4 linked regions of the Homo sapiens genome follow. The protein of the gene in region 2 purifies or fractionates together with the protein of the main gene of each other region. This does not show direct contact. Each region holds a gene or a part of one and is shown on either strand. Other genes may lie near its edges.

Region 1 (7,876 bases), about 180 Mb from region 2:
GAAAGGAGGGAATGAAATGCTTTCACAAAAGTTGTGAAGGGAGGGAGAAAGGAAGGAAACAAGAAAAAGAAAAAAGACTCGAGAAGATGGCACTAGACAAGGAGTAAGAAGGATACGTTTGATCTGAGGGGCTGGAATCAGGCAAGGGTGGGAGAGAGTACAAGATCTCCTCCTCTCCAGAAGTGGGCAATGTTATAATTGATTAGTTGAGCACAATCACCAAGTGCTCTTCTGGGCTCTGTACAAGGTCAGTTAAGTAATAATGGCAATAATAGCTCATATTTACCTAGCACTTATTATGTGCCAGGCACTGTTCTCAGTTTCACTTTATTAAGTCTTTTAATCCTCAAGACAACCCCATGAAGCGTTCATATTAACCCTATTTTATGGCTGAGGAAACTGAGGCACAGAGGTTAAGTTAAATTGCCCAGAGTCACACCGCCAGTGGCATCCGGGATCTAACTCCAGCTCCAGGACTCTTAACCACTAGGCTATATTTGGCCCTTAATGATCCAGAGGTAGGTGGGTCCCTACCCTCCTGGAGATCATGCCTTCCAAACCAGTATCCCCCAAACGATCACGACATGCCAGTTTCAAAGTTGGGTGCATAACTCTGCCCATTTCGCATGCGGGGAAGTCCAAACCCACGCTGCTCATCGATGGGGAACTGGAATCCAAATGTGCTGAATCCCAGCATCTTGTGAAGCGCTTTCTAATGAAGCACAGTGGAAACAGGGGTCAGCCTCAGGCCCTGACTCGCAACTGCGCCGAGGCGCAGATTACGGAGTCAGGGAGCCGGGGAGCCAGGGAGCGGGGGAGAGGGAGAGCGGGAGGTAGCGGGCTGGCGCCGCGTCGGACGAGTCCGAAAGCACAACCGCGGTAGGCAGGGAGACAGCCCCACGCCCAGGGCAGAGAGCAGAGGGCAGAGAGCGGCCTGGCTCGACGGAGAGCGCCGCCCGGCTGGAACCGAGCTTGCCTCCCTGGACTCCAAAACGAGCAGAGTTATGCACCCATCTTTGAAACCGGCATGTCGTGATCCTTTGGGGGATACTGGTTTGGAAGGCATGAACTCCGGGAGGTAGAGACCCACCTACTTGGACTGCTGAGAGCCAAGTACAGCCTAGTGGTCAAGAGCCAGCAGCATCGTCTCTGGCCGTCTTTGGCCAGACCCCTTCACCAGCGCCAGCGCCAGCGCCAGCGCCGAGGCGTCCTGCCCGGAAATTCCCAGAGAGTCAAAGCAAACTTCCCAGGAAAACTCTTCGGCTTCCTCCAAGCCTCTGTCACCGAGGCGGCTGCCAAGAGCGCCAGCGGAGTCTTTGCAGCTGCCGCGGGCCCTCCAGGGCGGGAGCCGCCGCTCCAGCGCTCGGGGTCCTCCCGGAAAGGTCCAGGGCTGAAGTTCAAAATTCACTTCCCGCCCAGGCCCGGCTCACCGCCCCGCCCGGTACTGTCCGGCAACCCCCACGTCTCTTGTCCTCTCCAGCTCCAGTTAAGTCCTGGAGCGCCTCCAGCCTGAAGACCCATGCGGGCAGCTGAGCGAATCCCGCGGGCGATCCCTGCGCGCCTGGGGACGGGAAGCAGCCAGAGCCGGCGCACACACACAACCTTGTGTGTGCGTGTGTGTTTACGTACGGAACGCGCGGGGTGGGAAAACAATGGCGAGCCGCTGGGAACTGAACGACTACCCGCTCCGCATCTCCCTACCCCTAGGCGCGATCAGCGTTTGCAGCGGAATCGGGATGAAAAGGCTCACCTACGATATCCCAGGGCGGGAGGTGGGGGTAGCAAGAAGCAGCCTGCGGTGGGGGTGGGGGTGGGACAGGAGCAGCCGGAGCAGAAAACAAACAGGATGCCGCGCTGGTCTGGTCCGCTGGGGAACGACCCTGAAACCGTGGCAAGGGGAGCGCGTCTGTCCCCCAGCACCCCACGCAACCATGGTGGAGGAGCTCTGCGCCTCGTCGCAGGCACCTGAGCCCCACGCAGGACGCGCGCAGGTCGCTTCGGCTTCCCGCTGAGAAATCCTTAAACTAGGCGCATAGTCGGGCTGATGAGAAAGACCTAGTCCTCTGCGGTCGGCGAGGAGCGGGTTGGGGGTGCACCCTAAGCTCGACCCGCGTGGTGAACGCGCGCGCGCGCGCGCGTACACACACACACACACACACACACAAACACACACACAGCCACGCACTGCCTTAGAGGCTGCCATCCCTCTCCACAAGGACCCAAGTCGGCCAGGGAGGAGCCGCCACTGCCCAGCGTTGTTGGGGGTAGGTGAGGGTCCGTCTCTCCTCGAAAAACTTTGCACAGGGTGGAAACTCGCAGGGAAGAGAGCCGGTGGGTGCCCAGAAACGTAGGGGCGCAAGTGTCAAACTTCAGAGAGCTGGGGAAATGGGCGCGACGGCGCGATCATGGCGGGGAGGGGTGCACTTACTACTCAGCCAGGCGCCGGGCTCGGGGCTCGGGGCTCGCGGCTCCGCGCTCCTGCTCCTCCTCCGTGCGGTCCTCGCGGCTGGCAGCCTAGGCTTCCCGCTCACATGCCCCCGCGACGCGGCGGGCGGGCCGGGTTGGGGAGGCTGGGCTGGGAGGGGGCACGCCCCCCGCCGTCGGCCGGGGAGTCGCTGCGGACCCACGGCCACCCTGGGTCCGCGCCCCACGGGGCCCGCCGTCCCGGGCGGCGAGCTTGGTTCCGGCCGGGCGGCGCCCTCTCCGCCGAGCCAGGCCGCTCTCTGCCCTCTGCCCTCTGCCCTGGGCTTGCGGCCGTCTCCCTGCCTTCCGCGGTCCTGCTCTGCGACTCGTCGGACGCGCAGCCGGCCCGCCCTCCCTGCTCTTCGGCTCTCACGCTCTCCGGCTCCAACCTCAGCGCCTCGGCTCGATTCCGAGTCAGGGCCTACGAGGCTGACCGCTGAGCTCTGGGCTCAGACCTGGGCTCGCCGGTTCTGGGCCCGGGTTCCAGGACCCGTGCTCACACAGTTCAGTTCCAAGCCGGGACTGGAGAAGGGCGCTCGCGGCTCGCTGCTGCGAGGCGACTGGACAGCCTAGAGGAGAAAGAGGGAGGGAGACCGAGAGCGCGCAGGGGGAGGAGGGAGGGAGGGTGGGGACTTGCAGAAGAAGGGAGGGACAGAGAGTTTCCTCCTCCTCCCTGCAGCCGGGTCCATCCAGGCATCAACAGCTGGAAACCTCTGTTGGAAAGGGGAAAGCTAAGGTTTACGGGCGGCGGGGAAGGGTGGGGGTGGAGTGAGGGGGTGTAGAGAAGAGAAGAAAGAAGGATTCTGCCCGCTCCCACTGCCCAGGTATGAGGGTCGCTACAGAGAATCTTCACTCCTTAAAGCAAGACCTAAGAAGTTATTGGTCCAGCTCCAAGCCTCCCAACCCCTCCAAACAGATAGCCTGGACTCGGGTTTTTTAAAAACCCCATTTCTCCGGACTTCCCTTAAGAACCTGATCTCTGCCGGGCGCGGTGGCTCACGCCTGTAATCCCAGCACTTTGGGAGGCCGACGGGGGCGGATCACGAGGTCAGGAGATGGAGACAATCCTGGCTAACACGGTGAAACCCCGTCTCTACTAAAAATACAAAAAATTAGCCGGGCGTGGTGGCGCGCCTGTAACCCCCTACTCGGGAGGCTGAGGCAGGAGAATCGCTTGAACCCGGGAGTGGGAGGTTGCAGTGGGCCGAGATCGCGCCATTGCACTCACTCCTGCCTGGGCGACAGGGCGAGACTCCGTCTCAAAAAAAACAAAACCTGATCTCACCTGTAGCTAGACGGATTCCTGATATCTCCAACCACTCCCTAATCCTGTCATTTGCAGCCTCTCAAATAAATCTTATTTTCTCCTGTCCCATTATATGGGAGGGTGGGGGAGAATGGAGAGTTGGTTTCCTTTCATTCAACGTATTTATCAAATGTCTACATATGACCGGGCGCAGTGGCTCACGCCTGTAATCCCAGCACTTTGGGAGGCCAAGGCAGCAGATCACCTGAGGTTGGGAGTTCGAGACCAGCCTGGCCAACATGGTGAAAACCCCTCTCTACTAAAAATACAAAAATTAGCCGGGTGTGGTGGTGCATGCCTGTAATTCCAACTACTCAAGAGGCTGAGGCAGAAGAATTGCTTGAACCCAGGAGGCAGAGGTTGCAGTGAGTGGAGATCGCACCACTGCACTCTAGCCTGGGTGACAGAGTAAGACTCTGTCTCAAAAAAAAAAAAAAAAAAAAGTCTACCTATGCCTGGCTTACCGGGGTGCTGGGGACACGAAGACAAATGAGACGGTGTCCTGCCCTTTCTGGATTCTGATTTTGTAAAGGAATGGGTGAATATACCATTGCAGTGAAGTGGAGAGGGCTAAGATAGGGCAGGCAAATGGGCACAGGGCCACCAAAGACACTGGGATATGGGGACTGGAACTTCTTGGGGGAGGTGGCATCTGAAATGGGTCTTGGAAGGACCTGTGGGTGTAGGGCAGATTAAAGGAGTGACAATCATGGACCTACTAATAAGTCTATGCCCACAGTGTGGGTGGCCAGCATGTGTTCAAAGGTGATGGTCAGCAAGGCTCTGAAGGCCTTCTAAGGGCTCATCCTTGCCCACTGCTTTGCCTGGCTAACTCCTTTTATTCATCTTTTAGGTCTCAGCCTAGACATCAACTTTCCCTGAAGCCTTTCTTGATGGCCATATCTGGGCCAGGTGCCCCATCTGTGGGCTCTGGAAAAACCCCATTTGTAAATAATATGGTAACCATTCATTTGTCTGTCTCCGCCCTGGACTGTAAGCTCCACAAGGGCAGGGATGTATCTCTCCAGTGTGCCTAGCCAGAGATTGGGAAAGAGCAGGCCCTTCATAAATACTTATTGATCAATACTTGTTGATGGAAGGAAATGGGGAGCCACTGAAGGATTCTAAGCAAGGTCTCAGATGGCATCAATCTAGCTGGAGGTAGGAAGGAGGCCAGTGACCAGACAATGGCAGTGGCCAGGGTAAAAATGATGCAGGCCTGAGCTAAGCTGGGAGTAGGGGGAATGGAAAGGAGAAAACAGGTGGGTGTAAGAGAGTGGGAGAAGCCAACATTAAAGGCTTGATGTTTGGATAACTATGGATGAAGCCATCCTAGAAATCATGAAAGGGTTACCCAAATTGCCGGGCGCGGTGGCTCGCGCCTGTAATCCCAGCACTTTGGGAGTCTGAGGCAGGAGGATCACCTGAGGTCGGGAGTTTGGGACCAGCCTGACCAACATGGAGAAACCCCATCTCTACTAAAAATACAAAATTAGCCGGGCGTGGTGGCTCATGCCTGTAATCCCAGCTAATCAGGAGGCTGAGGCAGGAGAATTGCTTGAACCCCGGGAGGCGGAGGTTGTGGTGAGCTGAGATCATGCCACTGCACTCCAGCCTGGGCAACAAGAGGGAAACTCTGTCTAAAAAAAAAAAAAAAAAAAAGGGTACCCAAGTGCCACCAAGACTTTCCTCCTCCCAGACAACATGCCTGTGTTTTCCATATATCTGGTTGTTTTTCTCTGGCCCCTGATCATCTTCAGGGGGGCAACTTGATTGTGGGTACCTCCCTGCAGCTGTCCTTAGCAACAGCAGATTAAGAGAGGAAGAGCAAAGATCAGCCCTTCCACTCACTGCCACCAAATTAAGATATAAAGTGTCTCCCTACTGGGTCTTAGGCACAATACTGTTTTCCTATATGGTATCTATTTGTACCTTATCCCAGTTCTGTGATGTTGGTGTCATTATCCCCATTTTATCTTATTTTTTAATTTAATTTAATTCCATCTCTTTGCAAGTCCCTGAGTACCTGGAATCCCATTTTAGAGATAAGAAAAATGAAGCTCCAATTAGTGAGACAGGAAGCTATCTGACTGAAGATTCTAGATTTTCTCTACTACTGCACCATTTCCCAGGAACAACTATCAAATTTACATGATGTAACCCAGTCAGCCACTCCTTGAAACACTCACTTCATGAGTCCACACTTTCTTGAGTCCTCCCACCTCACTGGCTGCTCTTTCCCAGCCACCCTTTTTTATGTTCCCTCCTCCATCCTGGTCTCCAGGTGGGCATTCCCTGTGGGCTCTCTCCTACACCCTATTTTCCTCCTACCACATCTCCCTAGGTAAAATTTTGTCCTTTTCCATAGCTTTAAGTACCAACTATGTGGTGATGATTCTCCCAATTATTTAATATCCAAGACTATTATCCAACCACACACTTGATGTTTCTACCCCAGGGCCTCACAGACATTGTAACCGTAATGGGTCCATTGCCTGAGGGCCTGCAAGTCAATACACCAACACCGAGGGTTGCAACAGAAAAAGAATTTTAAATGCAAGGCTGAACAAGGAGAGGAGAGAAAACCTCAAATCTGCTTCTCCGAAGAGTTGGGGGCTAGGGATTTTAAGGGGTTTGGAGTGGGCCGAGGTGTGGGGATCACTGTGGATGTCCCGTGACGCAGAGTCACGGGACAGGGAGATGAAGAAACTGCATTCTCATGCTGATTACGCTCCTCTGTGAGGGTCTTCAAACTGGTGGCATCAGCCATTCTGCTGGAACTCAAGAGCTAAAAACATCTTAAGCAAATCTTAAACAAAAGCCTTATGATTCCAACGTCAGTGATCCTATCTATAGGAACAATGGGGATGCAAATCGATTCTTCAACAAAAGCCTTATGATTCTAACATCAGAAATCCTATCTATAGGAAAAATGGGGATGCAAATGGTCAGTATCTGGTTCTATGGAACTTTTAGCAACAAGGAAGTGCGCCAAAGTGCAACCTAATTAATGCTTTTTCTTTCTTTCTTTCTTTTTTGAGACACGGTCTTGCTGTCACCCAGGCTGGAGTGCAGTGGTGAAGTCACGGCTCACTGCAGCCTCAACCTCCTGGGCTCAAGTGATCCTTCCACCTCAGCCTCCCAAGTAGCTGGGACTACATACACAGGCATGAGCCACCCTGCCTGGCTAATTGTTTTTCATTTTGTGTAGAGACAAGATCTTGCTATGTTGCCCAGGCTAATCTCAAACTCCTGGGCTCAAGTGATCCTCTCGCCTCGGCCTCCCAAAGTGCTGGGATTACAGGTGTGAGCCACCGCACTTGCCTATTAAGGTTAAATTATAACAGTATTTCCGCCCAGAACCTAGCATGTAATACTTGCTAACCCTGTGAGGATGGCTTCCACATCCTAACCCTAACATTGAACCTTTAACCATCATCCCCAACCCAGTACCATCTTCTTTCCCATCCAGTAAATGGTACTACCACCTACCTAATGGCTCAAGTCAAAAACCTAGCCATCATCTGTGATTGTTTCTCGCTCATCTAATCAATTTAGTGAGTCACTGGCCTATCTCCAAAAATATATCCCAATCCATCCATTCCTGTCTTTACCACCCCACCCTAGTCCAGGCCACAATTACCTACCACTCAGCCAGACTACAACGGCCTCACCTGCGGTGACATCATTTCACTGAGGCTGCCTACATCTGCATGACTTTAATATTTGTTCCAGAAATTTCTTCCCCAGGAAGATAAGACTGTAAACTGGTAAATAACTTCATTATTTCCTTCAGGAACTTCCTGAAAATCAATTTATCTGAACAATAGACTGCTCAAACAGCCCCCTTCTCGGGACAATAGTTTGCTTAACTGGGCAAACCAGTAGCTTATCAAACAATTGTTTATTCTTCAAGACCCTCCCTTCACCATGTCCTCCAATCCTAAACTGTTATAAATTTTGCCCAGTCCCAATCAGATCCCCATATTGAAAGATCTGCCTTGAACTAGACTTCAAACCCGATAAAAATCTTTACACCTGTTAAGTTCTTCCCCAAACCCTCCTCTTCCTAGAGTGGGCACCTTTTCATCCTCTTGTCTCAACAAA
Region 2 (7,992 bases):
CAAGGTGTGCCAGATAGCTTGAGCCCCAGAGTTTGAGAGCAGTCTGGGCAACATAGTGAGACCTTCTTGAGACCTTCTTCTCTACAAAAAATTTAAAAATTAGCCAGGAACCTGTAGTTCCAGCTACTCGGGAGGCTGAGGTGGGAGAATCACCTGAGCCCAGGAGGTCAAGGCTGCAGTGAGCTGTGTTCCTGCCACTGTACTCCAGCCTGGGTGACAGTAAGACCTTGTAAAAAAAAAAAAAAAAAGCTAAATTTAATTTAAATTTAACAGTCTTAATATTTCATTTGCAGGTTGGCCGGGCACGGTGGCTCACACCTGTAATCCCAGCACTTTGGGAGGCCGAGGCGGGCGGATCATGAAGTCAGGAGATCGAGACCATCCTAGCTAACACGGTGAAACCCCGTCTCTACTAAAAACACAAAAAATTTGCCGGGCGTGGTGGCGGGAGCCTGTAGTCTCAGTTACTCAGGAGGCTGAGACAGGAGAATGGCATGAACCCGGGAGGCAGAGGTTGCAGTGAGCCGAGATCGCGCCACTGCACTCCAGCCTGGGTGACAGAGCGAGACTCCATCTCAAAAAAAATAAATAAATAAAAATAAAAAAAATAAAAAATAAAAAATTCATTTGCAGGAACATTTTGTTGTCTTTAATGCCTTAACAGCTCCTGAAAAAAATCATGTCAAATGATCAATCCATGTTATTTTTTCATGCACATCAAAGTCACACATTTATTAAATCAGCAATAAATTACATTTCATTGTGAATTCATATTGACTTTATACGTCTGTAGTAGACTTTAAACAGTCCTGCTATCAAAGGCATTAGCCCTTGCCGTTATTTAAAATGTATCCTGGCCAGGCACTGTGGCTCACGCTTGTAATCCCCACATTTTGGGATGTTGGGGTGGGCGGATCACCTGAGGTTAGGCATGCAAGCCCAGCCTGGCCATAATAGTGAAATCCTGTCTCTACTAAAAATACAAAAATTAGCTGGGTGTGGTGGCAGGTGCCTGTAATCCCAGCTACTCGGGAGGATGAGGCAGGAGAATTGCTTGAACCCAAGAGGTGGAAGTTTGCAGTAAGCCGAGATTGTGCCATTGCACTCCCGCCTGGGTGGCAGAGCAAGACTCTGTCTCAAAAATAAATAGATAAAATATATCCTGAGGGAAGAAGGGAAGTAGAAAAAATATATACATATATATCTTGAAGGATAAGGACAAAATATTGACTCCGCTTAAATATCTCAAAAAGAAAATAAATGAAATAAAATTAAGTAAACAAGGAAGCTATTGCATTTAAACTAAATTAGTTGACCATGTTAAAGAAGCCTCAGTGCTGTGTAACAATAGATGCTTATAAAATAATCCACCAGACCACACAGTGCATATGAAAGTGATAACTCTAATTATATGATTGTAACTAAGTTGCAATTTTTTTTTTATACTGAGGTGGGTCACATCTGGACTAACCCTGTCCCTTTTCAGTCATTAAGTCAGTGTACTTGATATATTTTATTAAAATATTCAGTGATATGATTTCGCTGTGTCCCTACCCAAATCTCATCTTGTTCCCATAATCTCCATGTGTCATAGGAGGGAACTGAAGGGAGGTAATTTAATCATGGGGGCGGTTGCCCTCATGCTGGTCTCATGAAAGTGACTTCTCACAAGATCTGATGGTTTTATAAAGGGCTTTTCCCCTTTTTGCTGGGCACTTCTCCTTGCTGTCACCATGTGAAGAAGGATGTGTTTGCTTCCCCTTCTGCCATGATTGTAAGTTTCCTGAGGCCTCCCCAGCCCTGTGGAACTGTGAGTCAATTAAACCTCTTCCCTTTATAAATTACCTAGTCTCAGGTATGTCTTACCCAGTGAACATTAGTCTGTTCTCACCGTGAGAACAGACTAATACATCCAGCTAGTCTTTTAAAAATAATAATGTAACTGACAATTTAAGAATATCTTATATTGGCCAGGCGCTCACACCGGTAATCCCAACACTTTGGGAGGCCAAGGTGGGTGGATCACAAGGTCAGGAATTTGAGACCAGACTGGCCAACATGGTGAAACCCCGTCTCTATTAAAAATACAAAAATTAGTCAGGCATGGTGGCGTGCGCCTGTAGTCCCAGCTAATCAGGAGGCTGAGGCAGAAGAATCGCTTGAACCCGGGAGGCAGAGGTTGCAGTGAGCCGAGATCGCTCCACTGCACTCCAGCCTGGGCGACAAAGCAAGACTCCATCTCAGAAAAAAACAAAGAATATATCTAAAGAGGTTGGTCATGAATATTCTCTGAAACTAGGACCAAAAGTCTCTGTTAAAATATAAATGAGCTGAGAGTGGTGGCACATGCTGGTAGTCCCAGCTACTCTGGAGGTTGAACGGGAGGATAGCTTGAGCCCAGGAGTTTGAGCCCAGCCTGGGCAACATAAAGAGACTCCTTCTCAAATGCATGTGTGTCTGTGTGTGTGTGTGTGTGTGTGTGTGTGTGTTCCTCCTTTGAAACAATTTTCCAGTCTGATTCTTCAAGCTCATATTAACGCAAATGGACTTAATGGTTCCTTTTCCTGGGGACTAAGTTTGGGGAGGAAGGCAGGACTGATTCCTTACCCTTCAAACTAAACCCTGGTCACAGGCTGACCAGTGCCTCCAACCCAGACCAAGCCCTGACCCTAGCCTCAGACTGTGCAATAACCCTGACTAGCATATATGTATATATATACATATGACAAGTCATTCACATTTGAAAATTGGCAGTAGGGCCGGCCACGGTGGCTCACGCCTGTAATCCCAGGATTTTGGGAGGCCAAGGCGGGCAGATCACCTGAGGTCAGGAGTTCGAGACCAGCCTGGCCAACATGGTGCAACCCCGTCTCTACTAAAAATACAAAAATTAGCCGGGTGTAGTGGTGGGTGCCTATAGTCCCAGCTACTCAGGAGGCTGAGACAGGAGAATTGCTTGAACCTGGGAGGCAGAGGTTGCAGTGAGCTGAGATCGTGCCACTGCACTCCAGCCTGGGTGACAGAGCAAGACTCTGTCTCAAAACAAAACAAAAAAGAAAATTGACAGTAGATAATGGAATTACTTTTAAACTATAGATATCTATTACAAAGAACTGTACAAATGTACTGTTTGCTATTTGTAAATTTAAATCTCAACACTTCCACTATGTTTCCAGTCGGATTTCTCTTCTATCCTCTGTATCAGCAATTCACATCTTCCTAATTCTTCTCAGTCCTCTAGATGCCCCTGTTCCCTCCCTCCTCACATATGCCTTTCACAAAAGAAATGGAAGCCTTTCAATGTTTTCTGACTCTTCTTTCTCTTTCTTTCTTTCTTTTTCTTTCTTTCCTTCTTTCCTTCCGTCTTTCCTTCTTTCCTTCTTTCTTTCAGAACCTCGCTCTGTTGCCCAGGCTGGAGTGCAGTGATCTTGGCTCACTGCAACCTCTCCTCCTGAGTTCAAGTGATTCTCTTGCCCCAGCTTCCCCAGTAGCTGGGATTACAGGTGCCCACCACCACACCTGGCTAATTTTGTATTTTTAGTAGGGTTTTATCATGTTGGCCACAGGCTGGTCTCAAACTCCCGACCTCAAGTGATCCACCTGCCTGGGCCTCCCAAAGTGCTGGGATTACAGGCGTGAGCCACCGTGCCCGGCCAGGACTAACACTTTCTAGCTTTCTACCCTTCAGTCCATAAATTTATTCATTTAGACACCCTGTCTTAACATTTTTTTTTTTAGCCTTTACGTTAACAGAGGCTTCTGGTCCTAATTTCATATCATACCCAGGTTCATTTTCATTATCCATTAAATCTGCTATTTTATGTCTTCTATATTCTTATCTTAAAATACTAAAAGAGAGGACAAAGGATACAACCTTGGGGCACATCCCTAGGGTCTTTCCTCTAGAGTGACTTTTATTCAGTAATGAACTCACTTTGTCTGGCTCTTAAAGCTAAGAAATTATACAACTTTTTTTTTCCATACAACTTTTTTTTGGAGTGCAGGGGCACGATCTCGGCTCACTGCAACCTCCGGCTCCCTGGTTCAGGCGATTCTGCTGCCTCAGCCTCCCGAGTAGCTGGGATTACAGGTATGCGCCACCACACCCAGCTAATTTTTGTATTTTTAGTAGAGACGGGGTTTCACCATATTGGCCAGGATGGTCTCGATCTCCTGACCTCGTGATCCGCCCTCCTCTGTCTCCCAAAGTGCTGGGATTACAGGCATGAGCCACCGCGCCCGGCCTCCTATACAATTTTTTAGTATCTCTCCCTGCCAAGTCAGGTTTCTAGATACCCAGAATTTCACTATCTGAGATTCATTCCTTTGGCTGATGGTTCTGTTCTCCTTTCAAACAATTTTCCTGTCTGACTCTTCAAGCGCATATTAATGCAAATGGACTTAACAGTTCCTTTTCCTGTGGACCAAGTTTGGGGAGGGAGGCAGGACTGATCCTTTACCCTTCAACCTGAACCTTGGTCACAGGCTGACCACTGCGTCCAACCCAGACCAAGCCTTGACCCTGACTAGTCAGTGACCCAGGCCACACCCTAACTCCTGGTCACAACCTGAACCCCTGCTTCAGGTGTGAGAACTGATAGACCGGCGTTGGAATGGAAGGAGGGTGAGGCAAGCTGAGTGGGATTCTCGTGTCCCCAGCCCCGCCCGCGGGCCGCCAGCTTCCCAACCTGCACAGGCCCAGCAGGGCCCCTCCAGGTCTAGGTGAGCAGAGCTCCACCTACAGGTAAAACGCGGCAAGGGGCAGAGAAGGAGCCAAGTGGCGACGTGGTCATGCGCAGAAAGATCCGTCCGGCTCTCTGAGCAGAGGGTAGCGTGTGGGGGCGGGATACCGACGCGGCTCGGCTGCCGATTGGTCAGAAGAGGATAGAAAGGGGCGGGAAGCCGGCGCGGCTCGACTCCCGATTGGCCAGAGGCGGCAGAACGGGGTGGGGCCAAACGACGCGCGTTCTGTGGCGCGCGGCCTGGCGGGCGTGCAACGGCCGTTAGAGGAGCTGAGGGAGGGAACCACCGCTCACCGCAGACGTGGTGGCTGCAGTCAGTCTTCCCGAGTGAGGGATTTCGCCGCCCGCTTTCAGGCCCGTGTAAGTTTTCCTCCTTCGGGAGCCTCAGTCCTAGTGGCCGACCTTGCCTCTCCTCCCATAGCTCCGGCGAAGCCTCAGACGCTCGCGACCTGCCACCGTGAGGGGCCGGGGAGAGCGAAGCGCATGCGCCTCGGCTCCGAAGCCAGTGCCCCGGCATACGCCCTCTCGCGTCCCATTCCCCTCGCTTCCCCCGTTGCCTTGCTTTGCCGTCCGTGGTTCACCCCACGGCAGTCACTTTACCTGCGTGCCAGGCCCTGTGCCGATAGCCAGGGACACAGCGAGCGGCGCATTCCTTGCCCTTGCGGAGCGCACAGCCCTGGGAGTCGACGTTAAGCGGGGTAATCCCTCGGCGCGCAGTGAGGGTAGAGTGGAGAAATCTTACAAAGAGCGCAAAACAGAAGGCGCGGATCTAGTCGGAGAGGTCAGGGAGCCCTCCCCGAGGAGGAGAAGTTTGAGCCGAGATTGGAAGGCTGTGTAGAGAATTAAGGTTGTGGGACGGAAAGCACTTGGCGGGGCCTTACCCCGGTACTTCTCGGCCGGGGCGATTTTGCTTCCCTGGGGACATTGGTCGATGTCTGGAAACACTTTTGATAGTCACAGCTCCAGGGCTTGCTACTGGCATCTAGTGCGAAGAAGCCAGGGATGCTGTTACACAGCCTACTGTGTGTAGGACGCCCCCAACAACAAAGAAAAATCCCCCAAAATGTCAGTAGGGCGGAAGGTGAGGAAGCTTCCTTCAGCGAGAAGGAGCTGGTGCTTTGGTTGAACTGAAAGTTAGTGTGTTCAGGTTTATTTGTTCAACAGTATATTCAACGCTTACTTCACCTCAGTTAATGAGAGCGATCCTTTACACCAGTACATTCCCAACACGTGGCTCAGAGCCAGGCGCATAGTAGGCACGCAGTAAATTTCGGTTGATGAATTGAACACTGGGATAAGTAGGGGGCGGTGGTGATACAAGGACGATGAAGCTAGCCAGGCCTCATTTATTTGCCCTCAAACCTTGTCTGCTTTATAGTGATCTGGTGGTTTTGTATGTCTCACGACTTTTCTTTGTAAAGGCAACTTCTTGTCAAGGATTTGGCTTCTCTTTCACAAGGTTTAATGAATGATCAAGGCGGTGAAAATAGTGTAATGGTGTGAGATCCTTCGTGTGTCTGTGTCAGCTGTCTGTGTATCCCTTCAAATCCTCTCTTGTCTTGATGTGGTTCTCTTAACAGCTGCCAAGCATGATGTTCCACACTTAGATTGTAATTCTTTTTTTTTTTTTTTTTTTTGTGAGACGGAGTTTTGCTCTTGTTGCCCAGGCTGGAGTGCCGTGGCGCGATGTCGGCTCACCGCAACCTCCGCCTCCCAGGTTCAAGCGATTCTCCTGCCTCAGCCTCCCGAGTAGCTGGGATTACAGGCATGCGCCACCATGCACGGATAATTTTGTATTTTTAGTAGAGACGGCGTTTCTCCATGTTGGTCAGGCTGGTCTCAAACTCCCGACCTCAGGTGATCCGCCCGCCTCGGCCTCCCAAAATGCTGGGATTACAGGCGTGAGCCACCACGCCCGGCCACACTTAGATTGTAATTCTTATAGGGGAAAAATACTTACGGCAGTCAAAATCTAATTCTTGGGTAGCAACTTGAGAAATAAAGCCTAGGTGATGACCAAGGACAAAGTGAAGAAATTTTATGAGCTTTTACTGCTCATATAATTGAGGCTTGCAGCTCTAGCTGTCTGAGGCAGAAACTCCAACTTGTGGTGCCATGCTTGATCTCTTTTTTTGTGTTTTGTCACATGTAGAATGCTGACTAGACTACTGTAGCGTTAGAGTACAGTCCTGGCTTTGAAGCCTCTTCCTAGCCATATGACCTTCACTACTGTAAACCTTTATTTTCTCATCCATAAAATGAGGATAATAGTAACTGCCTCATAGGGTTGATGTGAACATGAAACATGAGACATGATACTTAAAAAGTGTTGAGCACAGTGTTTGATAGGTAGTAAGTGCAGAATGCATGTTAAATTTGTTGAATGAGTGACTGTTTCTGTAGTTTAAAGGGCTTTGAAGATGGAAACCAATCCTGTTGGGTGCTTTTTTTTTTTTTCCCCTCTGTCTGCCTCCATTCACTCCCTTTCTAAGCTTTATAACTGGTGTGTTACTTCTTGTACATTCACTTCTCTCATTTTTATCCCAGGAAATTTCTGTCTCCTTCAGTTGTCCCAAAAATTTCCACCAGTAGCTCATCTAATTCTTAAGTCAAGAATGATTTATTTTGTATTGTTTTACTCCTTACGGGGTTTCTTTCTTTCTGTTTTTCTTTTTTGAGATATTTGTTGTCAATGAGGGTCAGACTCTGAAATATTTGAAGGGATTTATTCTGAGCCAAATATGGGTGACCAGTGGCCCCTGACACAGCCCTCAGGTGATCCTGATAACGTGTGCCCTGGTTTTAAACATTTTAGGTAGACATGAGACATCAGTCAAATACATGTAAGATTTACATTGATCTGGAAGGGTAAGACAACTCTTAGTGGGTGGGGGCTTCCAGGTCATAGGTAGATTTCAAAATTTTCTGATTGGCAGTTGGTTGAAAGTTGTTATCAATAGAAAGGAATGTCTGGGTTAAGGTATCCTGGGGATCAACATTTTATTGTACAGATGAAGCCTCCAAATAGTAGGCTTTAGAGAGAATAGATTATAAATGTTTCTTACAGACATCTGTGTTAATGTTAATGCTTTTCCTAAATTCCAGAAGGGAGGAGGGTATAATGAGGGGTGTAGGACTCCACCACCACTACCACCATCATGGCCTTAACAGGTTTTTCAGCTTAACTTTGGAATGCCATTGGCCAAGGGGAGGGATCCATTCAGGTGGTTGGGGATGTCTTAGAATTTTT
Region 3 (5,943 bases), on a different chromosome or scaffold from region 2:
CCATATTAAAGCGGTAAAATAAATCCTTCAAAAACTCAGATCTGGTTATCATATTCTGCTGCTTAAATGGTTCAGTAAATAAGATACAAGCTGCCCCTTGGGCCTGTGTCAACTGACCTCTAGCCACACACACACACATACACACACACACACACACAGAGCACACTCAGTATGCTAGCCCTAGTGAATTTCTTTCAAATGCTCTTCCTTTCAAGCCTTTGTTTATGCTAGTCCTTTTGCGTAAACCATCTTCCCTGGCTATATTCTGTTCACTCTTTAGGACTTAAGATAAACATCACTTCCTTCCACGCTGATCAGTTTGATGCCTTCAGTTTCAAAGAAAGGAGACAAACCTGGGGACTGTTAAAAAGTAAAAATCAAAGTTACAATGTTATTTGAGCTCAAAAAGTGTTGTAGTTTATAAAATTGAGAAGGTTATATTAATTTTTATGCTTCCTGAAGAGTGTATCAATTATATAAAGTTATGAGTAATGAATGGCATGAAACAAAGTCCCAACGTTTTCAAGTTTTATTTTTAAAATATATTACAACATCACATTAAAAACAGTAGAGGAAAACAAGCAAACATGATAGAATTACTTTTTTCCAACTCAATAGTACTTAGCTTTACCTAGAATTTTCATACAGTTGATGCTAACTTCTTCTGAACCCTTTCTGACTAGTATTTTACCTTATGTATTCTTTATAGTATTTCCATATAATCTTTACCGAGACCTATTCAGAGCATAACATAGACAGGGCAGCACAAGCAACTGACACCTTTGTTGGTAGTACAGTGTTTTTTCAACCAGTTTATGAGAGAATGAAAAGAATGAAAGTGAAAATTTTACTTAACTTAGGGTTATGTAGCTCTAGGTAATCTCTTCAGAACTCCCCTGCTTCACCTTCTCAAGTTAATCAACAGTGGCTAGTTTATAACTAGAAACCACTTACCAAATTGCCTAAACAAGAAAACTTTTTAAAATAACAATTTGCTGATCTGTCCAATAACTCCAATAAAGTTGAATTTGCTTTATTTTTCCAAAAATTATGTTGTCTAGATAAAGACTCTTTGTAAGTGTAAATGTATGATATATTGAGTTGATTTTTAGTCCCTATTAGAGAGTTGTTAGACAAGTTATTAAAGTTTAAGAAAATTTGGATTCTAAATTTCCACCTGATAACATATATGAAATATTTTATATTTTCAATATATACTTACTTATATTTTGCACACTGTATATAAACTAGGAGATTAGAAATGTTTTAAGTCCCTTCTCTGTGTGTATATCTGCACTATATAAAGAAAAAAAGAAAGGGTAGAAAGAGACTTAACTTTTTTTCTATCTTCCATAAGAAAACTTCAAAAATGTTTCTTTTTAAAATTGAATTTTTCAAAAGGGAAAAAATATTATCCTGTTTGATGGGAAATCACTTGTTTTAACAAAAGGTAAAATACTGGCATGTTAACCACAAGGTGGTGCTATAATTCCATGCTGGTACTGATATTTTAGGAGTTAATCGATACAGAAGTTTTTTCCCTTATAACTATAACCTCTTAACCTCTTAATTTTTATAAATGTACTTCTCTCACAATTGAAAAAATTAAAGCTAACATGCTTCATTAATTCTGGAAATATTTACTGAAACTCTGTTAAATTCAAAATTGTATGTTTCTGTAGGCTACCATTTTAAAGTTCTGATGACCAACTGTTTATTAGAATACTAAAAATGTGGCCAAGCATGGTGACTCACCCATGGAATCTAGCACTTTGGGACATCCAGGTGGGCGAGTAGCTTTAGCTCACGAGTTTGAGAACAGACTGGGCAACATGGTGAAACCCTGTCTCTACAAAAATACAAAAATTAGCCAGGCATGACGGTACAGGCCTATAGTCCCAGCTACTCAGGAGGCTGAAGCACAAGAATCGCTTGAACTCGGTAGGCAGAAGGTGCAGTGAGCCGAGATCACGCCAGTGCACTCCAGCCTGGGCAATAGAGTGAGACCCTGTTTCAAAAAGAAAAAAAAAAAAAACAAAGGAATTCTAAAAATGTTTTCTTAAAAGTGATTTCTTACACTGTTTCAAATTCACAAACACAAAAAAAATTTAAGTGATTTCTACTCATATAACAATATTTTATATTTGACAGTGTAATATAGAATTATACATACATACCATAAATAGATGAATAAATAAAATATAATCAGATGGTCCATATAATATTAAAAAAAATACTAATTTTCCTTCCAAATAATGAAGTCAATTTTCTTGAGGATTTTCTGATTACTGGAACACTTTTATCTACAAGTTTAAAAAAAGATAATTCATATAGTAGTAATATTAAAAATAAATTTCATTTTTCCATTGATTTACCTTCAGCTAAGACTTTTCTCTCCAAAAAATGTGTAACTTTTCATCATTAAAAAAACAAAACACAACACCTCACTGTGTATCTTTTAACGGTGGCTAGAATGGCTACATTCTCTTTCTGTTACACTGGTCTTAAAAAGTGTTACGCCGGAGGCCAAGACAGGCAGATCACCTGAGGTCAGGAGTTTGAGACCAGCCTGACCAACACGGAGAAACCCTGTCTCTAATAAAAATACAAAATTAGCTGGGCATGGTGGTGCATGCCTATAATCCCAGCTACTCAGGAGGCTGAGGCACAAGAATCACTTGAACCCGGTAGGCAGAGGTTGCGGTGAGCCAAGATCGTGCTATTGCACTCCAGCCTGGGCAACAACAGCGAAACTCCATCCCCCCCTCCAAAAAAATTATACAATAGAGCATACTAAAATGTTCAACACATTTCTCATGGTGAACCTTGAGACCATAGTCCTCTTGGTCTAAACTTGAGGACCATAGTCCTCCAGCCTGTTTCCCAGTACAAAAGGAGAATCTTAACCTTAATTTCTCAGTGTTAATTGGAAAGGTATTGATGTTTTTGACCAAGCATGAAATAACTGCCTTTTTGTTTTATTTAATTTTCAATGAGCATTTTTAACTGTTCATTATAACTTATTCATCAGTACAGATGCCAAGATGGTATATATGAGAGCCTCCTGGGTATAATACACAAGTCCCATTTGGAATGTTTCCAACAGGATGTAAACCATAGTCCTCAAGCCTGTGCTTTAAAAAACATTACTTAGCACACTGCCAACAAATGTCAACACAGAAATACAGTGCTGTAATGACTTCACTCTGTAAGAGAAATATACTGGAACATGAGTTTTTCCTAAAAAAAAAAAAAGTGACACAAGGTAAAGCAGTATAATCATTGCTCAAAAATATTAAAAGAGTTATTCAATAATGAATGCAAAAATTCATATACCAAATGGAATCCAAATTGTCAAAAACTGCAGTATTGCAGTATATTAAAATTGTATAAAGAATTCTTAAAATATACAATATGTATAGTAACCAAAGTCCTAGAAAAAAGTTCATGTAGAAAATCCTACAAGTAGTGATTTGGACATTTCAGTAACTCTGCAGTTTCTTCAAACCTGAAATATAATAAATAATATATTAAGTAAATCAATAATTCATAATAAAGCATAGCATTTTAGTTGTTGAAATTATGCTTTTTAGCCTAAAATAAATTTGAATATTTTTCTTATCTATAAGTACAGTTACTATGAATAAACTTAAGTATGACCAGAGGGAAGACAAAGAGGAGTCGATTATGAGTCATATTCTTGAAGTGTAAGTTAAGTACTTTTTGCATTTCTAAATAATATTATAATTTTCTATAGTAGTAGGCTGCATAATCATCTTATATGCAATTTCATTTCATATTTCCTTTGAACTGCTCTTTAGAAAAATCACACCATTTGTACTAGACAAAAACATCATTTTTAGTATCTCATCAATAACTTGCCGAAAAACACCAGTGATATTTTCACAACACTGAAAATGTCTCCAAACCATCCATCTATATATATTATTTAATATTTTGATAAATCAGTTATCAAAAATAGATAATACTCTTGATTAGTTACCAACCAAAAATATCTTTGTATTCTCTCTGCAGTTAATTCCATTAACAATTCCAACAAGTTTTAAATCGCTTGTTGGAAACTAAAACAGTGACTCATCTCACAAACACATAACTGTAGGTGGATTTATTATCCAGTGGAGTCCTGAAGGAAATTCCACACCTGATTGAGAGACCTTTAAGGTTTGAAACACACATGCACATTCTATATATACTGTAATCCAATACAATTCCCTATAGAGAAATGAATTTCTGTTGCCCCTTTCTGTTACTTACATTTTTTTCATCCTTTCCATTTTCTGGATTGTTGTTTCCTTTAATTTAAAAAGCAACAAATTTAGATGATTTCTCAAAGTAAACCATCATCAAAGATGGACCGAGAATGTACAAAACACAGTTTGAAACATTGCATTAAGTACTGTTTACTTATGAAAGAATTTTGAGAGACTAAGATTCGCGTTTGCTATTTTTCTTGCTAGCAATATTTACAACAAAAGCTAATGCTTGCTTGTTTTCCTCATTTAGAAAGGAAATAATCTAAGCATTTTCTTACCTCTGAAATCTCATTCAAACCACAGTAATTAACAGTAGAGGCTCTGGGAGTTGAATCTGATGATGCTGTACTATAGCCAGAGGACAGAGGAATACTTGCTGGCCTCTCTACTTCGCTTTTTCTGTCTGTGAAGAAATTAAGTTTTAGATTACCTTTTCCTTTCACAGAAGAGTCAAATATCTAAAAATATTATTTACAGATGGAAGAAAAACATACTATTTTAATTAAAAATGGCTATCCGCATAGATCAAAGAGTTTTTAGTACTCTTAAGGTAACAGCTTTCATATGGAGATCTAGATGTTAAAAATTGCCCAATAAAAATTACAAAAGGCAGTATTATTATCATGATAGCAATCAGTTTGAATAAACAGGTAAGTTAATAATTTATTTTAAAATATAACCTATTGAATCAATCATGTATATTCTTTTCTTTTTTTTTTTTTTTTTTTGAGACGGAGTCTCGCTCTGTCGCCCAGGCAGGAGTGCAGTGGCGCGATCTCGGCTCACTGCAAGCTCCGCCTCCCGGGTTCACGCCATTCTCCTGCCTCAGCCTCCCGAGTAGCTGGGACTACAGGCGCCAGCTACCACGCCCGGCTAATTTTTTGTATTTTTAGTAGAGACAGGGTTTCACCGTATTCTTTTCTTAAAATGGTGATATTTACATTAAATAATTAGTATCCATGAATTTGTCATGATGCTTTTATTCAGCAACATTTAAGCATTTCACAAATTTTTTTACTACTGTTCTGTGGCAAGTGACAACTATTACTATAACTGACCATATATATCTTTTAAAAATCAAGAAACATTCTAACTTGATTTGACATATATGAAAATAAGTAATGCAAAAATTTAAGATCCACAGATTTCTTTTTCTAAAAAACGGAAAAACCTAACATTTCAAATATCCTGATAATATTAATTTGACAAAATGATGGCATCTCCCCTACAAAAATATCAATTAGAGAAGATTACGGATAATGTAATAAATCCTACAAACCCTGTGTTTCAGTCAGAATACATTTGGCTGCAAAAGCAATGCAAAAAAAAAAAAAAATTAGACACCCATTTAAATTGGTTCACATAAAGAGAGCTTTATTGTAAGCCTACACAGACAACCTTAATTGGGGAACAAACTATTACCACTGAGAACTGAAACAACTAGAAGACTAATTTTTATCTCTCATAGAGCCACAGTCTCTTTTGCCTACTTCTGCCATTTGCTCCATCCCTCAGCTCTTCTCTGTAGAATGGCTTTCTCTGCTGACTCATCAGCGTAAACTTCCACCACATGGCCAGCCCGGCCCAGGCTCAATATCATTTGACTAACTAACTCGTGGTGTCCTAATTCCAAATGCTAAGAGAGAGAATGTAATTTGACTCATCACAC
Region 4 (7,025 bases), on a different chromosome or scaffold from region 2:
CGCCAAGCAGTAAAAGGTGATTCCTTATGTTAACAATTTCAGCAGAATGGCTTATTAAAACCAGATTTTAGGGTATTATAAAATGCTTAGAAGCCCTTTAAAATGTCAACTACGATCCCCAGAGACTACGTAAAATGTCAACCCAGCTCAAGCGCCTGTTTTAAGCAGAATGAATTAGCGGCATGCTGTCGGAGGCTGTTATCCAAAACAATCAGCAAAGAGGAAAACATCAAGCTTTCTTTGTACTTTTGTATGAAATGGGTCATTTAGAATGATCTTGTGGATATTTGAAGATCACTTATTTATTTAAAGCTGTGACTAAATATTGAGCCCAAAATACCTCAATGTTTTATTTGTTCCTAAATATAAATGTTATATCTTTAAAGAATACATTTTCATCAGAAAGACTGAAATTAGGCAGTATTCTCTTTCATGTTGTCTATTATAATATAATCATATGGTCATTCTAATATTCTTTCCCTCAAATCAGAAGGGAATTCTCATAGCCAGTCATCTCTTTTCCATAGATACTTTTGCTACATTTCCTAAAATATCATTTCTTATCATCAAAACTGATATTTCTCTTATAGTTAAGATAGTTTTAATTAATGATTATCACCTTTTTGGTATTCAGACACAAGAATTGAATAATATAAAGACAGTTTTGAAATCTTAGTATTTAACTTGGTTTTTATTCTGACAATTTTGGATTTCTAATTTGGGAATAACTGATATATTAAAACATGAAATATGCTTACATAAAGTATTCTTTTCTAGAGTTTTCCCAAATGAAACTGGTATGTTGTTTTTTAAAGATAGGAAATTTCACATGGAAGGTAGAATATAGTCACAAAAAATATAGTCACAAAAGGGAAAAATAGATCAGAGCTGGTAGAGATGTAAAAAAATGTGTATTTCCTCTTGATCAGTTCAAGTTTTTGATTATGCATGATATATATTTTTACACACAGATTTTCATATTTTCTATGTATACTACTGAAAGCTTTGCATGTTCATGTCTTTTTAGATAACATTTAGGTGAAAAATGAGACACAATTTTAAGTGGCTAATGGTTTGTTTTGATCCCATTACAAATGCACCTTGTGGACTAGGTGGCATCTATTATCTTTGTTGAGAATATGGGATCATAAAAACATACGGCCGGGCGTGGTGGCTCATGCCTGTAATCCCAGCACTTTGGGAGGCCAAGGTGGGCGGATCACCTGAGGTCAGAACTTCGAGGCCAGCCTGGCCAAAATGGTGAAACCCTCTCTCTGCGAAAATACAAAAGTTAGTTGGGCATGGTGTCCCGCGCCTGTCATCCGAGCTACTCAGGAGGCTGAGGCAGAAGAATTGCTTGAACCCGGGAGGCGGAGGTTGCAGTGAGCCGAGATCACACCACTGCACTCCAGCCTGGGCGGTAAAGCGAGACTCCATCTGCAAAACAAAACCTCATGCATATGTTTGCCATTTATAGATGATCTGTAATGAATCAAAAGTGATACTATTTTTATAAACTCCGTGTAATTCCAAGTGCCTTACGAATTCTAATAAAACTTTAATAATTTTGACAAATTTTGTTACTTATTTGTTAAAACCAACATTTTCTGATAAAATGTTTCTATTCTATTTTTGTCACTTAACTCTTAGAAGTCACAGAGTGAATCATCAAAATTTTCTTAGGTTGTCTAGTATCTGGCCATCAGACAGTGATGAATGACAATGACAGTGATAATGATGTCAGATAAGGCACAAAAGCAATGGAATCTTCTTTTTTTCTTTTTCCCCCTGGGACCTGAACTGGTCTATAATAGGTATCTTTATAATCAGCACCCTTTCTCCCCAACCATTTTTCCTGTGTGCTACAGTCTCTGTGTGGGTAGAGTAAATGCGTACTTTGTTTTCTGTTCAATTGAATGTTGCAATGGCAGAAAAGTATTTAGTATGACTAAAAGTACCTTTAGTACTTAAGGTTACTAAAAGTATAAATGTAAAAATGTACACTCTACATCTTCTTGTGTTCTGAAAATCTAAAACTGATTTTCAATTATAGCACTGGAACAAACATCTTCCCCACCTCCACCCTCACCCCCACAACAAGATGAATTCCGCAAATAAAACTCCTTATCCTTCTGTTACAGAGGATGATGAGAGAGGAAGGAGGCCTTAAGATTAACAGTAAGTTGTCTATAGTATGCAAGGAAATGAATACAAATGATCAGTAGCAATATCTAGTGGCTCATGTGAAAGCAACTTTTTTCTCAGCTTTAGTAAAAATATTTCTAGATTTTTGAAGAAGATAAAGCATTAAAATAATTAGTATGAAGACAAACAGCTACATGAGCTATAGAAATATGGCATATTTCTCAATGGACATAGAATGCTTCATCACCAGAAGAAGCCTCAATGATGATGTTTATTTTCTGGATAAGCAAATAACACGACCTGTATGGCCTCCAAATCCAGGATCCTTCCACAACTGCAGAAAACAGAACAGTACCTTTATTCCATACGTCACTTAGTTCTTAATGGTTTTCTTACCCAATATCTTGCTGATGTTGGAGTTGTGCATGTCAGGAAAGGCTTGAAGGATCTTTCTCCGTTCATCTTTAGCCCACACCATGAAGGCATTCATTGGACGCTTTATGTGGGGTTCATTGCTACCACGCCCTCGGGATTCCCTATAAATTCTTGACTCTGAGACTCCAGCACTTCCTGAAAACAGGAAACATCACTTCGTGTTAGCGTTAAAACTTTTGTCAGCTCTTTTCCTTGCATTCCTATTTTTCAGTCTATTAAGATATCTGAAAAGAAAAAGTACTTCTGATAATGGTACTTCCAGTTCTTAAGACAGATGCTTGTTTATGAAGTTTTTCTGATAAGCCTTGTGGTGGCAAATGTTATATTTGTATTTTTAACCAATTTCTAATCTGTTTTCTCTTTCTTTCAATGGACTGTTTCACCATTTACTTTCAACAGCTCAAAATAAACTCCGATATGTGATTTTTGATGCAATTCGGAAAGAGGATAGTCAGATTAAATCAACAGGCATACCAGTAGTGTAGAAACATTAAATAGGTAAAGAAGCACAAATCAATTTGGCAGAATGGATGATTATAGGGGAGGATATATCTTTGCTACTTAAAGACTGTCTGAACATATAGTACCTTATGTTCTCTTTCTCTCTCCGAGGTTACAAAAATAAAAACACTGACCAAATTTTGAGGTTAAAAACAATATAGGTATTTCCCTGTAATATAATTGGCTTTTCTTTGAAATTATATGCTGACAAATGCATGACATATGCTGATACAGCAATGACAGGTCTGCCCCCCAAAATATATGTAAAACTGGTATGGAAAAGAACAAATGAACAGTTACATTCCTCTAGTTTCTTAAGGAGTCTACAGTCACATGTTTAAGATGAGAAAAATAATAATTTCCTTTGAATTTTCCCCCTAATATTTAAAGTTATCCAAAGAGTCCCATGGACAGTCACATTTCAATCAGTAAGATTCACAGATGATAAAACACAATTCAAGAGTTAACAACGATAGCTTTGGAAGCTGCATTCACTCCTCCAGCCTTATGTGACCCCTTAGAATGGCTTCAGCAGATTAAATTGCTTCCAAGATACTTGAGTTTAGGCAAAGAGAAAATAAGGAGAACCAGTAGAACTCTGACAGTAGGTTTTCACTGGGTATTATCACAAAATAAGTAGATGTATTTTGATAGTATCCAAAACTTTAAAAATACTTTGGGGACTTGTAGAGACTGTATTATCAACAAAAGCACTGCTTTTCTTTTCTTGCTTTGTATTCATTCCTCATCTTTTCTTTATTTTTAAATTTGGAGACACAGGAATCAAACAAAATTGCCCAAACTTGAAGACCTCTATAGCAGCACATTCAAAACATAGCATACCTGTTGGTGAAGTTTCTCAATATTTTTCATTAATAACATGCTCTTTGATTTAATGAAAAGTAGAAAATATTTCACATACAAGCATGATTGAATTTAGGTAATGACAGCAACAAAAACTTTGATGTGTTAATGCTGATTACTGTGGGTATATTTTATCATGCTAATACAACTTAAAATTTATGAAATGTGTTATTACCCGTAATTGTCTTTTATTGACAAAATAAGTGCAAATATATGGCAACATCTTCCTAAAATGGGTTTGTAACTAGCAAGTGATCATTTGCACATCTGCCTTTTCTTGTTCTTACACCTTACAGCAACATAAGCAATAAAATGAACATTATGTGTCTTCATCAAATCTAAACAAGCTCTTTAAATGTACATAGGCTAGGTTTATCTTAGCTAAGTGGAGCTGAAAATAGAAGAAAATGTTTGCAACATTAGACCCAGAAAAATGCAAATTGAATCCAATTGAGTAAAATTCAGTTTTGATAGAATTACGTGTTTCAACGTTCAGGTTTGTTTAGTCCCTTGATTAGTATAGACCTGGTCTTAAAAGTAGAATTGGCCCAAGGCACAGAGTAAACAGTTGTGTATATTGGAGGATTCAAGGGGACCCCCTCTCAAAGTATGCATCTCACTGGTTTGCCTTTGTGCACTCTTCTCTATATGCAGGGAACTTCCCTGTAGTAGTAACAAAGTTGAGGGCGGTACTGCCAAAGGAATGCTTAAAATGCATGGATGCCACCTGACAGTAGAGAGATGTTCCCGGTCAGGGTATTGTATAAGAAGAACAGCACTTCCTTCTTTTTCCCTCTTTGCTACGCTATTAAAAATCAGAGTATCAATTTAATTTCTTCTCACTGTGGATGTTTAGAATGTTCAGAGATGATACAGAAAACAGAAGTCTGAAGGCCTATGAGAAGGGAGCATAAAGCTGTGCAGCTGGTTTCTAGTTAGGTTATAGAGAGTGGGCCCGACACTTGACTATGTAGTACATAGCACTAGGGAGAAGGGTTCCAAAATGTAAGAAACTATCGTGGAAATGTCCTCTGAGCCATGTATTCTGGTGAGGGCTTGACAAATAGAAACTTAAAAAATGAGCCAATAGAAACAAATTTCTGAAAAAGTTCATTTTGGGTACAAGAAATAGGGAAGTGAGGCCGCATGCAGTAACTCACGCCTATAAAACTAGCACTTTGGGAGGCTGAGGTGGGAGGATCACTTGAGCCCAGGAGTTTGAGACCAGCCTGGACACCATAGTAAGTAAGTCCTCATCTCAAAAAAAAAAAACAAAATTGCTGGGCATGTTGGCATGCACCTATAATCCCAGCTACTTGGGAGGCTAAAGTGGGAGGATCACTTGAGCCTGGGAAGCTAAGCATTTTGAGCATTTGCTTTAGAATCATGCCATCTCGAATTTAATTCTTGCCTCTGACACTTAGAGCCCTGTGACCTGGGGAAAATGCTTCAAAACTCCTGAGGCTCAGGCTCTTTCTCTGCAATGGGACTTATCCTAGGTTGACTAGGAATTAAATGAGACGATTTCTGCAAAGCACTCAGCAGAGTGCTTGGCACATGGGGACTGCTCAGTATATGTGACCTCTTATTGTAATGATGAGGTATGAGGTGGCTGTCTAGTCTATTTTTTAGCAGTTTTAATTGGCACTACCTAGACACTTTCTTGCATTATTAGAATATGTATGAACAATTTTCACAAACCATCAGAATCTCCACTCAGATTGAAATCCATCATTGCATGGCTAAATTTTCCTTCTTCATTCTGTTTAACTGCCAGTTGCTGAGTCAGACTCTCCAGTGTTGTTTTTTCCTTTAAAAAAATTATAATGAGAGATCAGTCTAGGAATTAAAATTATTTGAAGACTTTCTTTTTTTGGGCCACATATATAATACATTAACTCCTGGAAAGGATGCAATGTTGATATATTCACCTTTTTACGTTCAGCACATTAACCTGAAGTCATTAAGGGGATGATCAGCACGATTTTTGAAGGAACTCTGATTCTCATAGACCCCTATAAAGTCTTGGCGTTTGGGTTTGGTATGCCTAAGGGATATATGCCGGGATCCTTGGAGACAACCTTCCCAAATTACAAAATGTGCACAGAAATTTCATGGAAGCAACCTGTTTTACATTTGGAATGTCTGCTTTATTTTTGGCCAGACAGTAGAAGTATAGGAGTGGCGTGAAGCCCAGAGAAAGTCTTCCAATAGTCAGGTGACCAAATAATAGAAACATAATTCACAGTAGTGCCCTCTGGTTGCCATCTTCCCAAATGCCATCTGCATTCCTCATGCAAGGGTAATGAAGACGTTTAAATATTCATTGCTAATTGCTTGTCAAGTCTCTGTACATCCAATGTGAGTGCCTGCTACTTGGACCACAATTTGATTTGGATTGCTAAGCCAAAATATTGAGTTGGCGAATTATTTGAGATACAAATATACCAAAATTAGATCTACAGAGACATCAAGTTGTTTAAGCATGCAGTGCACGATTCACATTCATGGAGAACATAGCATTTCAAAATAAATTATTTTTAAGAAAAATATAATGCTTAATCTAAACCATATGAGACATTACTGTCAAATTAAGAAACTGGGTGACTTTAGGAACAGAAAAAGCATATAATGAAACTTGATAACTTTCTCGTGAACTCTCCAGCACTGCTCTGAGGATGATGTAGTACCAAACAGCACCAAAACAGTTTTAAGAAATGCATCCATTGGATCTCATAACATTATCTCAAGTTTCTTTATAATTATTCACCTCATTTTCTGAGGAACATAGTCATGAATCATACTAGTGAACGACATACACTGCAGAACTGCTATTGACACAATAAAATGTTCACAGAAAGTAATCAATGATGTAAGATAATTGTATTACAGGTAAAGGGCCCAACTAATGTTCCCACCAAGAACTAATGAGATATTGAAATTCTTAACACAGTACATGCTTTATCTCAATGAAGTCTCTGACAATGTGACAACTGTACATACTAAATTAAAAAATCTCTTAAGTCAGTGGCCTTGGAACTCCTGTACTCTATTCATCAAATTATGTACATTATTTAATA

The links.
Region 1: the proteins of CEP85 (region 2) and SOX13 purify together in Homo sapiens (affinity purification with mass spectrometry; 3 studies listed by BioGRID and IntAct, with this or other methods). This does not show direct contact.
Region 3: the proteins of CEP85 (region 2) and CEP44 purify together in Homo sapiens (affinity purification with mass spectrometry; 3 studies listed by BioGRID and IntAct, with this or other methods). This does not show direct contact.
Region 4: the proteins of CEP85 (region 2) and SOX5 purify together in Homo sapiens (affinity purification with mass spectrometry; 3 studies listed by BioGRID and IntAct, with this or other methods). This does not show direct contact.

What each region holds. Positions count from the first base shown.
Region 1 is NC_000001.11:204,068,264-204,076,139, reverse strand, and holds the start of SOX13 (transcription factor SOX-13), read right to left. Parts: upstream 3,026-7,876; 5' UTR 2,429-3,025; intron 1-2,428. UniProt on the Homo sapiens protein: Transcription factor that binds to DNA at the consensus sequence 5'-AACAAT-3'. Binds to the proximal promoter region of the myelin protein MPZ gene, and may thereby be involved in the differentiation of oligodendroglia in the developing spinal tube.
Region 2 is NC_000001.11:26,229,209-26,237,200, forward strand, and holds the start of CEP85 (centrosomal protein of 85 kDa), read left to right. Parts: upstream 1-4,991; 5' UTR 4,992-5,102; exon of another isoform or gene 5,103-5,440; intron 5,441-7,992. UniProt on the Homo sapiens protein: Acts as a regulator of centriole duplication through a direct interaction with STIL, a key factor involved in the early steps of centriole formation.
Region 3 is NC_000004.12:174,314,900-174,320,842, reverse strand, and holds the end of CEP44 (centrosomal protein of 44 kDa), read right to left. Parts: intron 4,678-5,943; coding exon 4,553-4,677; intron 4,314-4,552; coding exon 4,276-4,313; intron 3,509-4,275; coding exon 3,460-3,508; 3' UTR 515-3,459; downstream 1-514. UniProt on the Homo sapiens protein: Centriole-enriched microtubule-binding protein involved in centriole biogenesis. In collaboration with CEP295 and POC1B, is required for the centriole-to-centrosome conversion by ensuring the formation of bona fide centriole wall.
Region 4 is NC_000012.12:23,540,670-23,547,694, forward strand, and holds part of SOX5 (transcription factor SOX-5), read right to left. Parts: intron 5,756-7,025; coding exon 5,647-5,755; intron 2,716-5,646; coding exon 2,542-2,715; intron 1-2,541.